Linked DNA regions of Homo sapiens. Each later gene encodes a partner of the first gene's protein in a complex. Each region holds a gene or a part of one and is shown on either strand. Other genes may lie near its edges.

Region 1 (7,023 bases):
TAGAAGAGGATGGAGGGAAAACAGAAATCACCGACCATGTTAGGGTTCCTCCATTCATGAAAATGAAACCAGCAAAAATACAAAGACACACCAAAGATACATCAATCCTACAAGAGAAAAAATGCTGTCTCTAGTAAACATTCACTCCATGTCCTCTGCCCATGTGAACCAGAGATTCTCACAATCCCTCTAACCTAAGAACTCCCCAGAGGCACCTTAACTGTGGAAACATTTCCCCTCATGGCACTCTATGAGCTGGTTACCGCCAGTTTATGACACAATTCACCGTTCCAAAACAGCAAACTTCAGGCTATAACCAGCTAGGTCACTTTCTGAAAAGTGTTGTAATGTCTGTCACTGATTCTTAAAAGGTGCATTTAATTAGTTAAAAACTTTTTTACTATTTTTCCAGATCTATTTTTCTTTTTTCTCTTGCCATTCTTGCAGGATACCAGAAGCAAAAAGACGTATTTTTCTGCAACTTCTCTCCAACCAGGTAGTTCTCATTCTTACTCTCAAAACAAATTAGTTGTCTTGTCTATGCCCTTGCTTATGCTGTTACTGTCAGGCCTCTGAGCCCAAGCCAAGCCATCGCATCCCCTGTGACTTGCACGTATACGCCCAGATGGCCTGAAGTAACTGAAGAATCACAAAAGAAGTGAATATGCCCTGCCCCGCCTTAACTGATGACATTCTACCAGAAAAGAAGTGTAAATGGCCGGTCCTTGCCTTAACTGATGACATTACCTTGTGAAAGTCCTTTTCCTGGCTCATCCTGGCTCAAAAAGCTCCCCCACTGAGCACCTTGGGACACCCACTCTGCCCGCCAGAGAACAACTCCCCTTCGACTGTAATTTTCCTTTATCTACCCAAATCCTATAAAACGGCCCCGCCCTTATCTCCCTTCGCTGACTCTCTTTTCGGACTCAGCCCGCCTGCACCCAGGTGATTAAAAGCTTTATTGCTCACACAAAGTCTGTTTGGTGGTCTCTTCACACGGACGCGCATGAAAGTTACTCCATTCAGAGGCCTTTCCCATCTCTTAATCTGATTCTGCACTAATATGTTAGCTCCAAGCCATGTGTGGATATTTAATATCTGAAATGTGGCTAGACCAAATTGAAATATAAGGTAGCTGTAAAATGCACATTGGATTTTGAAGACTTGGCACAAAAAAGATGTACAATTATCTAATTTTTTAAACAATGATTACATGTTGAAATATGTTAAATAGATTATTAAAACTGATTTCACCTGTTTCTTTTTAGTGTTTTTTTTTTTTTTTTTTTTTTGAGACCGAGCCTCACACTGCCGCCGGGCTGGACAGTAGTGGCTCGATCTCGGCTCACTGCAACCTCTGCCTCCCGGGTTCAAGCGATTCTCCTGCCTCAGCCTCCCAAGCAGCTGAGATTACAGGCACGCGCCACCACGCCCGGCTAATTTTTATATTCTTAGTAGAGACGGGGTTTCACCATGTTGGTCAGGCTGGTCTGGAACTCCTGACTTCAAGTGATCCGCCCGCCTCGGCCTCCCAAAGTGCTGGGATTACAGGCGTGAGCCACCGCGCCCAGCCTTCTTTTCAGTTTTAAATGCTGCTACTACATAATTTTAAATTACAATATGTGGCTTCTATTAGACAGCCCTGGGGCTTAAATCCTACTTATTCTTCAAAGCCTAGTTGAAACACTGCTGCTTTCATGAAGCTTTCCCCCAGTGACTCCAACTGCCCCAGCCCCCACCGCCAACCTCTCGTAACACTTTGAATCACACTCACAAAGAATAAGATTAATTTTACCTTGTTACACCTTCCCAACTCCAACATAAGCAAGTTGAAGAAAAAAAAACTATATCTAGATCACCATGAAGTTTTCCTCTGACACCTTGGAGAGCCCAGCGCTACGGTAATGTTTGATGTCTGCTAATGGAGAGCTGAATTTCTTAATTACTAATTATCTATCCCTTTCAACGATTTCCATTTTTTTCCTCTGGGATTAAAGTCGATGTCTATCAATGTCCTGTATTATTTTTAAAGTGCCCATGAGCTGTACACATACAATATAACGAACAAGCAAATCCAAAACTAATACATGTGGTCAATACACTTAGATCAACTGTAAAATTTAGACAAGCCTCTAAAGGTCCCTTTTTAAAAAATGATGTTGTACAACCTAACAGTGTATCGTGAGATCAACTATTTCAAAAGTAGAAGCCTTTCCCAAAGATTAACACTGGGTGAGCAGTTTACCAAAAAATTATTGGCGGTCTTCCCCCACAATCCCGAGTATAAATCAGGTAAGCATGCAACAGCTTGGGTGCAGTAAGAGCAAAGTCCCACACTGCATCCAAAGCTCAGAAATCGAGCTGTGAGAAATGTGGTAGTAGGGGAAAAGATGACTTGCGTGAAGGAGACGAACGATGAAAACTGTTGGAATGCAAAACGAGATAACAGCCAGAATAAAAAAAAGTATACCAACTAAGTGGGAGGGATTCTCCTCGGGTCAACCTCTGAACCCTCAGGCGAAGGTCGCAGTGGTCATTTCAAAACGTCTTTTCTTCACATTGTATTTTAGTGACTCAGATCTGCATCCAACAAACTTCCTTCTTCAGCCTACTCCAACTCCCACAGCCAGGACTCCGGCCAAACCCAGCCCTGAAGCCACCCACTCCAGCACACTTTGGAGACTGACAGACGACACAGGAGGACCGTTCTGAGGCCCAGCACCTGGATGACACCCCTCTCCTTGGGAGTCCCGCCCCAGTCCCTTGGGCAGAACCAGGCAGGCAGGGGGCACCCAGCTGGCAGAGGGGTAGGGCAGGGCACCGGACTTCGCCTAGGACCGGCCTCTCCGTTCCATGCCGACGCCAGACGGCTCCTCGGGGACCGGCAAGATGGTGAGAAGGAAGAATAAAGGGGCATTGGAAATTAGCCCCGGCTTTCACTCACCAGCCGTCGCCGCTCGACGTTGGCAGCGGCGGCACATCTTCTCCTTCCGCCATTGCTGTTGACGTCCACGTCACTTTGCCGAAAAGTGGATCCGGCGCTGAGACCAACTCCGAGACTCAATGTCGTAAAAGGTCTTCGGAAGTCCAGCACTGAGCTTCCCCAGAGGGGAAGAAAGAGGGAGGTGGCAAGGGACTGGAGGAACGCAACGTCACGGCGTCCCGAGGCCGAAAGGCAGCGTCTTGGGGGAGGAGACTTGGTGGAGGCAGCTGCCCCTCCAAAGACTACATGTCCCAAGATGCCACGGTGCCGCGGGCGGGGCGGGGCGCGGTGGACGCCGTCCCAGTTGGAGGCCTTGTGTGACAAACAGCGTGTCTTTTTAGCGTCCACTTAGCGTCTTCATTCCAGCTTGGCGTCGAAATTAACAAAGTTAGAATTTACAGTCCTAACTATTGGAGAAAGCAAGGGAAATGGGAATTGACATAGGGAAGGCGGACGTAGGAGAAGAGCCACAGTTCAGTAATTTCCTGCTGTAGCAATTTAATTTGAAGAAAGAGTGGGACGTAAGGAAAGGGGCAGACCACCCCTATTTGTGAGGCCCCGTCAAAAGTGTAAATGAAGGCCCACATACTTTTTGACTGAATATTTAAAAGTTGTAAATGAAGCTATATACTAAAGGAGATACGTTCTAGCCTCCTACCTTAAATATATCTTCCTAACAGTCTGGAAGATCAAGTCCGAATTTAGAATTCTAGGACTGGAATTCCAGGCAAGCAGAGCTGCCAAAATCCTTCTCTACGCGTTCCACTTCCCCTTTACACCGCATGGGCGGACACTTGGCCACCGCCGGGGCCTTGGGGTGAGCACACGCTCAGGAGGATGGACCTAAAGAAACGCTTTTGCAAGCCCTGAAAACAACAGTGATGAAGTAGAACTGCATGTAACAATATGGATACATCTGAAAAATACGCTGTTAAATGAGCAAAACAGATTGCAGACGGATAGGTAAAGTATGGTATCATTTATAGTTGGTGTTTAAAAGACAATATATTTAAAATAGATCCATATGAGTTTAAAATGCAGGAGAATGATATATAGAAAACTCGGAATGGCAGTTACATTCAGGGAAAGGGAGGAGTTTCCATGAATTTTTAAATATTTATTAAGGGCCCCAAGGTGGCCACATAGGTGGCCAGTGTTCTTTATAGAGTCTATACTTAGGTATCTAAAATGTTTCATAGTTTCAAAAACTATTTGTTTTAAATAGATACAAAACAGTACAGCTATCTCATTTACAACCAAAAACATGTTCACTCTCTTCCCTAAAGGGAAATAATACAGATCTGCATGGTACTGCACCCACTTCCAAGGCCCGGATCTCTGTAATGTTCAGTTCTCTGTTAGGGAACATTTCTTTTAACATAGAATGAGACTGTAGATGCCCTCTATCAAAAAGAATAAAAGACGTGAATCTAGGTCACATTACCATTCTAATATTCAGGACCTCCCCTGGGTCCCTTCAATTGTTGCCAGTAGATTTTCAGAAACTTTTCAGAAAATGGTTTTAAAACCTATTCAGTCATTGACATGAGAAGCAGTTGCTCACTGGTTAAGAAGATTCTAGTCCTCAATTATGATTCATTTTGAGTATAATTAAATCAGCAACTGCTTTATAGTCTCTGGTAAAATATTTTCCCATTAAAAATATGTCACTTGACATTTTTAAACAGTTCTTTATTCTGTCAAAATAAAGTGGAAAGTTCTGACTTCTATGTTCTTTAATGGAGCCAGAGCCAGCTTCATGGGCATGTAGTCTATGCAATAGCATGAGACCACATGCTTAGAAGAACTCTGTGCTTGATTTCATGCTCTGGTGTTGCCATCTTGAAATTCTTAATAATTTGGGAACAAGGAGCCACTGGTTTTAATTTTGCACTAGGCCTCACAAATTAGGGAGCCAGTTCTAGATAGGGTCAATATCTTAGTGATGTATAACCCATTGGGGACAAGATTTCAACCAAAATTGTTTAGCGATAGTGTCTTCTAGCGGATTTTTTTTTTTTTTTTTTTTTTTTGAGACAGAATCTCACTCTCACCCAGGCTGGAGTACAGTGGCATGATCTCAGTTCACTGCAACCTCTGCTTCCTAAGTTCAAGTGATTCTCCCGTCTCAGCCTCCCAAGTAGCCAGGACCACAGGCGTGTGCCACCACGGCCGGCTGATTTTTGTATTTTTAGTAGAGACGGGGTTTTGCCATGTTGGCCAAACCATTTTTCTTTATTATTATTTTATTTTTATTTTTCTGAGACAGGGCCTCACTCCCTCAAGTAGAATTTGTTAAATTCTAATAATGGACCTCTGCTTAAAACAAAACAAAAATGCTTTTCAAGAACTAGAGAAGATTTCATTATGAAATCTTGGAGTGCGTCCCCTGCTTGCATTTGTGCATCTAATTGTAGTTCCCACATCCAAATGGGAAGGTGTATTATTTCATATTATCCTTGGATAAAATCAAAGCGTATTTCTTATAACAAGAAAATTAAAATGTCTTAGTTTTAAATTAAATTATAGAGAACATAAAAAGATTTTTCATTTATTATTTGGTGTTCTGAGCCATATAATTATGTAATTTATACTGTATTACATGTACTTAATTTGTACCATGCCTATGACACATAGTAGAATCTCCATAAATATTTGTAAAATGAACTAGGGAATTTTTTGTAGTACTTTTGTAATGGATTAAGCTATTCACCTATATAGAAATGGCTGGTTGGGTTCAGGGACAGGTAAGGATTATGAACTCATCTGCATAGTCATAGTTGTTATGTGAGTAGAATTTAATTCAGTTTTCATTGTAATATTATTTTAGCATTTGTTAAAAAGAGATGGAGAAATAACATAGCTCTTGATCATTTATTCCATATTCGTGCAGCCTTTTCTTGACTTTCGTGCATTCTTAGATAAAGACAAAGACCTAGTAAGATGTTTTAATCTACTGCTGCACAACAAATTACCCCAAAACTCAATGTCTTAAAGCAATAAACACTTAACTCATAATTTCTGTGCATCAGGAATCTAGAAGCAGCTTAGCTAGATGTTCTGGCTTAGGGTCTCTTGAGGTCAGAGGCAAGATGTTGGCCAGGGTTGCAGTCATGCAGTCATCTAAAGGCTTCAGTGGGGCTGGAGGATCCAGTTCCGTGGTGGCTCACTCACATGCCTGATGAGTTGGTGTTGACTGTTAGCAGGAGGCCTCAGATACTCCCCAAATGAGCCTCTCCATGGGCTGCTTGAACATCCTCTTGACATAGTGGCTGGCTTCCCGCAGAGTAAGAGTTCAACAGAGACCAAGATTGAAGCTACAACATTTTTTTTATTACCTACCCTCAGAAGTCGTAAATTCTGCAATATCTTATTGGTAAGCCTTATTCAATGTGGGAAGGAACCACAACAAAGACTTGAATACCCAAAGACAAGAATCACTGGGGGCCATCTCAGAGGCTGGCTGCCACATGAAGTAATATTAAATCCTACACATTCTTCATTGTTCAGTGAAACTTTCCCCTGAGATTCCTGCTCATATCATCTCAGCCCTTCTTACATTCTGTCGCCTCTGACCTAGTTTAGGACCATCAACAGGCACTCTCATCTGGGCACTACAGCATCTTATATTCTTTAACTCTGAGAATGACAACTATTTTTAAGTTCCCCTGTAGCCTCCAGTGCACCAAATGCAGGGCAGAACATATAGATAGTGCTTAAGAGTTCTTGTTAAATAACAAAATATTGATTTTTGTTTCTGCAGCTATTGTGTGAGAGTTTCAGAATTCTAAACTTTCCCAAGAATTTCCCTTTTTATCTTACAAGGACAAATGGTTTCACACTTATCAAAATTACTTCAGTTGTTTGTCGTTTTAAAATCCCATCAGGACCTGCATTCCCAGGCTCTTTAAACTACTGAAGCTTAACATTTGATTGAATGATGAACAAAACCCAGTTAATTCCCATTCACAGATGACAAGTGAACAGTTGGCAGCAATTTCAACATCTGCTTTTAATTCATTTTAAAATGTTGAGCAAAC
Region 2 (7,038 bases), on another chromosome or scaffold:
TACCTCCAAGGCCTCACAGGTACCTACGCTGACAGCTGGAGGACTTCAGGGCCTCTTGAGGTCCCTCTGAGAACTTCAGGTTGGGAAATGACTCCAGGAGACTGATTCTGAGTAACACTCTAGTTTCTGAGATTGCCATGAGAAGGCTCGCTGGTTTCCCCAGGACTCACTTGCACTCCTCACCTGAGTGATCTCTTGGGTAGTTATCTCAATGGCATGTTCCTCTTCGCTGCTGTCATCCAGGGTGGGTCTGTTTAAATGCTTGTCATGAAGGCTGGCCAATTCTTTCATCTTCTGCTTAATCCGGCCAACATCATACTGAATCTAAGCAAATGAAGTCACAGAACTCCACTGATGCCAGGCAGGCTATGGTCTGCCTCCATCAGCTACACTCAGCATACAGAATTCGGTCTTCAGCAAACTTGTTGGCTTGCTGATGTGTGAGCAGCTTTTAATTCAAATTACCAGAAAATCACATTCTTCCTTGTTGCATGGGGTTTCAATTTCTTCCTATAATTCAGGTAGTTACTACCAATGTTAAAACTACAGCTAAAATCATTAACACACACATAGACAACTTAACCTAAAGCTAAAGTATTTCTAGAAATATACATTCAAGTGTAGCCAAATTCGTTTATATGACAGATATCTTAAAATACATTGTCATAATTACTTAAAAAAACAAGATGCTATGAAACTAACATGGAACTTACTTCATCCACTCCATCCACCCACTTAGGAGGTGGCCGTTTTGTCACACCAATCGCTGCTTCTGGATCTAAGCTGATGCCTGACACCAGTGCCATACGGTCATCAGCAAGCTACAGGAAAGTAAAGGGACATGAAAAAAATTATTCTAATCCAATTTAGATACAAATACTCTTACTCTCTCTTAAATGTTACTCCCTGAAAAGATACAGAAAGGAGTGAATGTTTACTCTCTCTTAAATGTTGCTCCCTGAAAATATATAGAAAGGAGTGAATGCACTTGCCTGTATTATAAACTTGCTTTTGATAACTGCTAGGATTTGGATTGTTTTCCTATCTTTTCATGCACCAGCTCTTAATTTCCTTGGACATACTTCAGAACGTAAATTTGACTTGATCTGGCTATAGAAATGTAATGAAAAAGTCAACAAAAGATCCTTAAAATAAAGACCTCTTACTACTAGTACTGTGATAGAACGGCATGAACCTCAATGATTCTTGTGATCAGTTGCAAGTGAAAAAAAAAACTAGGCAGTAAATGAAACAACTACAAAATGCTCAATAGTAGCAAGGTTTACTTAAATACACTTAGCTTATTTTGGAAATAGGGCTGATCCAGTTATCTCAGTCACACAATCATTAACCATGTGTTAAGATGTGTGAAACAACTGCCTAAAACCGCTAGCAAATTATCTACCATTTGGCAAAAGCAATCCTTAAGATCTCAATGCAATCTTACACTGTCATTTCTTTTCTTCAGTTAAATGTCCACAGGGAACATTTCCCCTTATTTTGAAATGGTATCGATGGTTCCTGTTTATTTTAACTATATAACACACTGCGGTAGAAAGCTTTTAAGAATGGGAGGGAAATCGGCTGGGCGCGGTGGCTCACGCCTGTAATCCCAGAACTTTGGGAGGCCAAGGCGGGCAGATCATCTGAGGTCAGGAGTTCGAGAGTAGCCTGGCCAAAATGGTGAAAACCGTTCTCTACTAAAAATACAAAAATTAACTGGGCATGGTGGCTTATGCCTGTAATCCCAGCTACTCGGGAGGCTGAGGCAGGAGAATCCCTTGAACCCAAGAGGCGAAGGTCGCAGTGAGCCATGATCGTACCATTGCACTCCAGCCAGGGCAACAAGAGCGAAACTCTGTCTCAAAAAAAAAAAAAAAAAAAAAACACACACACACACAAAAAACAGAGGGAAATCATGGGTTTGGCACGGTTAAGCTGTTTTCTTGCCTGCAGGCAGTGAATGGGTTGAAAAGATTTTGAGGTGCCCTCCAGAGCTCAGAATTTTTAAATGCCAGTTTCAAAAGATCCAAATGATGATCAAAATATAATGGAAAATAATCTATAAAAGCCCTTTATAGATAATACTTTGGAAATTTTCTAAATCACACTGTAGAGTTGGGTGAAAAATTCATATTGCTTTTCTTCCCTCTTCCTTGCATTTAACTAAATTTATTTTTTCATTCATTAAATACTTATTTGCTTTTCTAATAATAAAGGAACAAGACAAAATTTTAAAATCCACAGATGAAGGGGGAAAAATATCATATAAAGAAAAACTTAGAATAAAAGACCACTTCAAGTAATAGGCCCTAAATCCTAAAGAGTTCACAGTAAAATTCTTAAAAGCAAATTGGTATCTTCACCATCAACCTCCCTGCATGCCCTGGAGTGGTTCTGCCACCATCTGCTTCAGGCTTTCTGTGTGCTCTGGGGCACGTGTCCACTCAGGGAACGCATCTTAGGCAATGACCACGCTGGAAGGACTAGGCCCCATTCACTAATCCCAGCACGTCCAGGAGCCGTGATTAAGCCCAACGGTGCTCAAGCGTGGCACGGATGCTGCAGGGCCAGTGTCATTTCTTAAACAAATGGTGTGTCATCCAAACCCGCACTGTCTGGGGCTCCCGGGCCGTGAAGTGGTAATTCTCCACCACCACTACCTTCTGTTTGGTTTCAAGAGTTCATCAATAGGAATTTTACATTCTTGACATTATTTTAATCCTCATAAAAACTAGGTGAGTTAGAAACTATTATTCTAACCTATAAATATGGAAATTGAAACTCAGAAAAGTTAAGTCGCTTGCCCAAGGTCACAGAGCCATTATGTGACAGACTGAAACCTGGGTCGGCTGACTCCAGAAACCCCTTCCACCCTCAAAGGTGCCAATCACTCCACAGGCCCATAAACTATAACTGCAATTTGCTAAGAAAATGAATCAAGACAAGCCATCAGATTAAAACAACAAAACACAGTAGTTTGATTCATTTCCCACCAACTACACCAGGCACTATAGGACAGGCCGCCAGTGAGTGACGTTAGTGTCAGTAAAGATCATCCTCTCTTACTGACCATCCGTGGACAGAGAGGCGCAGACCTCACCCTCTACAGAGCAGGCACAGAGAGGGCCTGTGCCAAGCACTCAGAGGCAGACTTGTTTATTCCTCAACACTCCTGCTCCAAAGTCACCAAGAGGTACACAACTCTGTGGAGGACACACTGACTAAAAAGCAGGGGGACAAACCACAGGCCCAGCTCGCAGCACCTGCCAGCCATACATCAGGTGCTGTCTACAGTATTGCTGGACTGGAACAGAACTTGAACTCCAGCTGTTTATACAAAGTAAAATCTAAAATTGCTAAAGGACCTCTTCATGGGTCCTAGAATTTCCACTACACCAGTTTATTATCGAATCCACTATATTTTATTATTACACATTTCAATCAGTAATTATTTATAGTGATTTTAGAGTTTTTAAGCTCATGATCTTATTTTGTACTGTTTTTACTGTTTACAAATACACATTAAACTAAAGAAGACAGAGAGATGGTATCTATCTAAATTTACCTGCATTGGGATTAGTATCATTTTATCCAAAACAACAAATTATAAACCACATATGAAAAGTCGGTTGAAGTGAATACAACTCTTTGAAGCAGTACTTGATTTTATGCATGTGTTCCCCTCAAATTAGATGTAAATCAAAAGTGGGGAGAACACACTCTTTGTTAAGGGTCCTAAGGAAGCTTGCTAATTAGAGATTCCTACATGAACAGCATGGATGCCAGCCTGCTCAGCTGGTACTAGCTTTCCCACACATTGTATCAGAGTTTTGCCAGTAAGATAGAACAGCTGATTCTTTGGGAATGAAAACTTTAAATAGCGAATAATTTGTCTCTTTTATGATACAGTCTATAGCTATAGTTCATTATAATAAAGAAACACCACCCTATTGAGAAGAAATGTGTCATTTCTTTTAGCAGTATGGATTTGTAATGTGTATCACAGTATGTACTATTAAAAAACAAGACAGTATGTTTTGGGAAGGGAAAACAATTGTTGAAGATAAGCGTCAACTATTTGAAATGGGAACAAATATGGACATAAACAAATTTTATGTGCAACATAAGCACCCTTTTAATTTCAGAAACCTCACTTTCCATTTAAAAACATGTCTTCTTATTGTTGAAGATCCAGCATATGTATCAATTTTCAAGCTGCCATCCTATTTCATACAGATCTTAAAAAATGGCCAGGTTTCTAATTCTCTCTCCTTACCCTTACTGAATTTCAACATGGTGCCCCCTCCAAATATATGATGTTGGTTTGTGCAGCTGGCCATGGTGGCTCACGCCGGTAATCCCAGCACTTTGGGAGGCTGAGGCAGGCGGATTGCCTGAGGTCGGGAGTTCAAGACCAGCCTAGCCAGCACGGTGAAACCCCGTCTCTACTGAAAATACAAAAATTAGCCGGGCATGGTGGCATGCACCTGTAATCCCAGCTACTCGGGAAGCTGAGGCAGGAGAATCACTTGAACCCGGAAGGCAGAAGTTGCAGTGAGCCAAGATCGTGCCAATGTGCTCCAGCCTTTTATTAAGACAGAGCGAGACTCCATCTCAATACATAAATAAATAAATAAATTTGTGCTTCTGAAGTAAAAAAAAAAAAATCCATATTTTTTAAATAAAAATTGTACTTAAGAGAATTAAGAATTCTTGCCTCTTTGATATGTAGTTCCTCTCTCCAAGAACTACTGGGGTCCGCTACCCTAACCTAGAGCCATCCTTCCTGAGAGAAATGCAGAAAAAATCCAACAGATGTTCAAAACAGCACACCCAATGGCTTTCCTGCCAGTCTCACTAAAGGTATCTTTTGCCTTTGATCCACTTCAAATGTTGACATTTGTCCATTTAAAGAGTACCAGCCAGTATGGACAAGTTCTCCATCTATGGAAAGAACATACACATTCTCTCTTATAAATCTTGCTGTTCCAAATCTATGGCCCTCCTACTCTTAAAAACCCTGCCTTTCCCTGAAGGCTGATTTAGTGTAGACTAAGATTACAGAAATAGCAAAGCCTCTGTGGAGATTGGAAAAGTCAGCTACACCTCCTCCCCATCTAAAAAAATCAACTAAGTTTAGCCGTAACGCATTGGTAATGAGAACAATACCGATAATTCTGGACTGTCTATGGCAATGAACACTTGGAAAGCCCAGAAGGGACACTGAAAATCAACAGACTGGCAACTCACACTTCCACGTGAAACTCTGGGAGCCTGTATGATGAAGTCAGACTACTTCGCTAATAGACAATTAGGCTTAAGAAATCCGAGTTGTTGGAGAAGTGAATAAGCATGTGGATAAAAGAAAAAAGTGATGTCAGCACTACATTTTTCTAAACCCGTAATAATTTTAAAATAATGCTTACCTTTTCTAATTATGAAATTAGTAAATGGTCAAAATAAATACTTTTAAAATGGCATAGGATGACGCAGTGGCTCACGCCTGTAATCCTAGCACTTGGGAGGCCAAGGCAGGCGGATCACTTGAGCTCAGGAGTTCGAGACCAGCCTGAGCAACATGTCAAAACTCCGTCTCTACTAAAAAATACAAAAATAAATAAATAAATAAAATAGCCACGCATGGTGGCACGCACCTGTAGTCCCAGCTACTCAGGAGGCTGAGGCAGGAGAATCGCTTGAACTGGGGAGGCAGAGGTTGCAGTGAGCCGAGATCGCGCCACTGCACTCTAGCCTGGGCAACAGAGTGAGACTCTGTCTCAAAAAAATAAAAATAAATGATACAAAAAATATAGAGATAAAAACACTTGAGAATCACATCACCCTGATACTGTTGTTAAGTTTCACTGATTTTCCTTTTTTCTCAACTAACATACATACTCTGAGGGGAAGAAAAAGGAGGGGAGCAATCCGTCCCTCCCTGCCTTCTGTGAGCACTGTACTGAGCACTGCTACTGACCTGGCCCATGCCAGTCCCAAGAACAATCCTTCAGAGGAGCGCCGCTCCCTATTTCACCAACATGGACACTGGGGCCCGGCCCAGGCACTCCCAGATGTGCAGTCCTCCAGGCAGTGTGGTTTGGGGGCTTGACATTTGTTATCTTGTGACTTTTAAAATAATTCTTGAGTTTAAAAACTCCCAGAGATTTCTTTGTCATAAGACAGGAAGTAGATTAAAGACAGAGAACAAAGGAGAGGGCCAGACACTTCCCTGGGTAAGAGAACCAATGGTGGGCTCGGGTCCTCCTCAGGGAACACCTTACTTAGTGTTTTCTGAGAAGGAAAAGTGACATCTCCAGGGTACTCAGGCTAGAGGAGGAGAATGACAATCAAACATGGACAGACTGCAGGAAGCCTCTGAAGTGAGGCCGTCAGATGCCTTTACTCTGGGAGATGCAAGTGATATTCACTCAGGGACATTTGCTCAGGCCTCCCCTATAAAGGGGTGGCTAACATCTAATCCACTCTGGAGCTGGGTGTTCACTATTTCCAGAGATGCCAATGTGAGGCCCTGCGTCAGCTTCAAAGAAGCCTCTGGACACTGTCCCCAACCACACCCCCTGCTCCTAGGCCAGTACCTGGCACTTCAGAGTCCTGAACGCACAATCACAACCAGCTGAGTGATCCGACAAGAAACGAGTGGAATGAATGCACGAGGTAAATAAAATGTACGTCACAGACAATTGTGGAAGCCACACTTCATGAAAAAGATAACGGCACTGCACAAAAGAGCAAAAGAGGCAAGTGAAACGCACAAGGAAATGAGGTGGCCGTGGGCACCCACGATGAGGCAGCAACCTGCATTTCTAATAGCACTGGGGTGAGCGTGGAGGAGATAGTGCTCTCTACGCAGGGCCTCTGATCACAGAGCGTGAAGACTCCCTTTTAAGCCCTTAGAGGTGAAACATAAGAAAAGCAAAAGGGCCTGCCAAGTTCATGCAGTGAGTAGCCAGTTTCTGGAACTTGCTGCCTGAAAAAGGAAGTAGGAAAGACTGGAAATCGGTTCAGACAGCAGAC

What was found. The genes of interacting proteins can lie anywhere in the genome.
Region 2: the proteins of TBC1D23 (region 1) and STX16 are in contact, whole or in part, in a crystal structure (PDB 8QQF), measured with the Homo sapiens proteins. Residues at the interface, in NP_001186127.1 of Homo sapiens: Leu638, Asn639, Ser640, Val641, Val642, Lys643, Ile644, Thr645, Ser646, Lys647, Lys648, Ser661, Ser662, Ala663, Ile666, Thr683, Lys687, Ile690, Met691; in NP_001001433.1 of Homo sapiens: Asp209, Asp210, Asn211, Thr212, Leu213, Tyr214, His215, Arg216, Phe218, Thr219, Glu220.

Annotation. Positions count from the first base shown.
Region 1 is NC_000003.12:100,256,993-100,264,015, reverse strand, and holds the start of TBC1D23 (TBC1 domain family member 23), read right to left. Parts: upstream 3,025-7,023; 5' UTR 2,998-3,024; coding exon 2,945-2,997; intron 1-2,944. UniProt on the Homo sapiens protein: Putative Rab GTPase-activating protein which plays a role in vesicular trafficking. Involved in endosome-to-Golgi trafficking.
Region 2 is NC_000020.11:58,661,273-58,668,310, reverse strand, and holds part of STX16 (syntaxin-16), read right to left. Parts: intron 822-7,038; coding exon 714-821; intron 325-713; coding exon 184-324; intron 1-183. UniProt on the Homo sapiens protein: SNARE involved in vesicular transport from the late endosomes to the trans-Golgi network.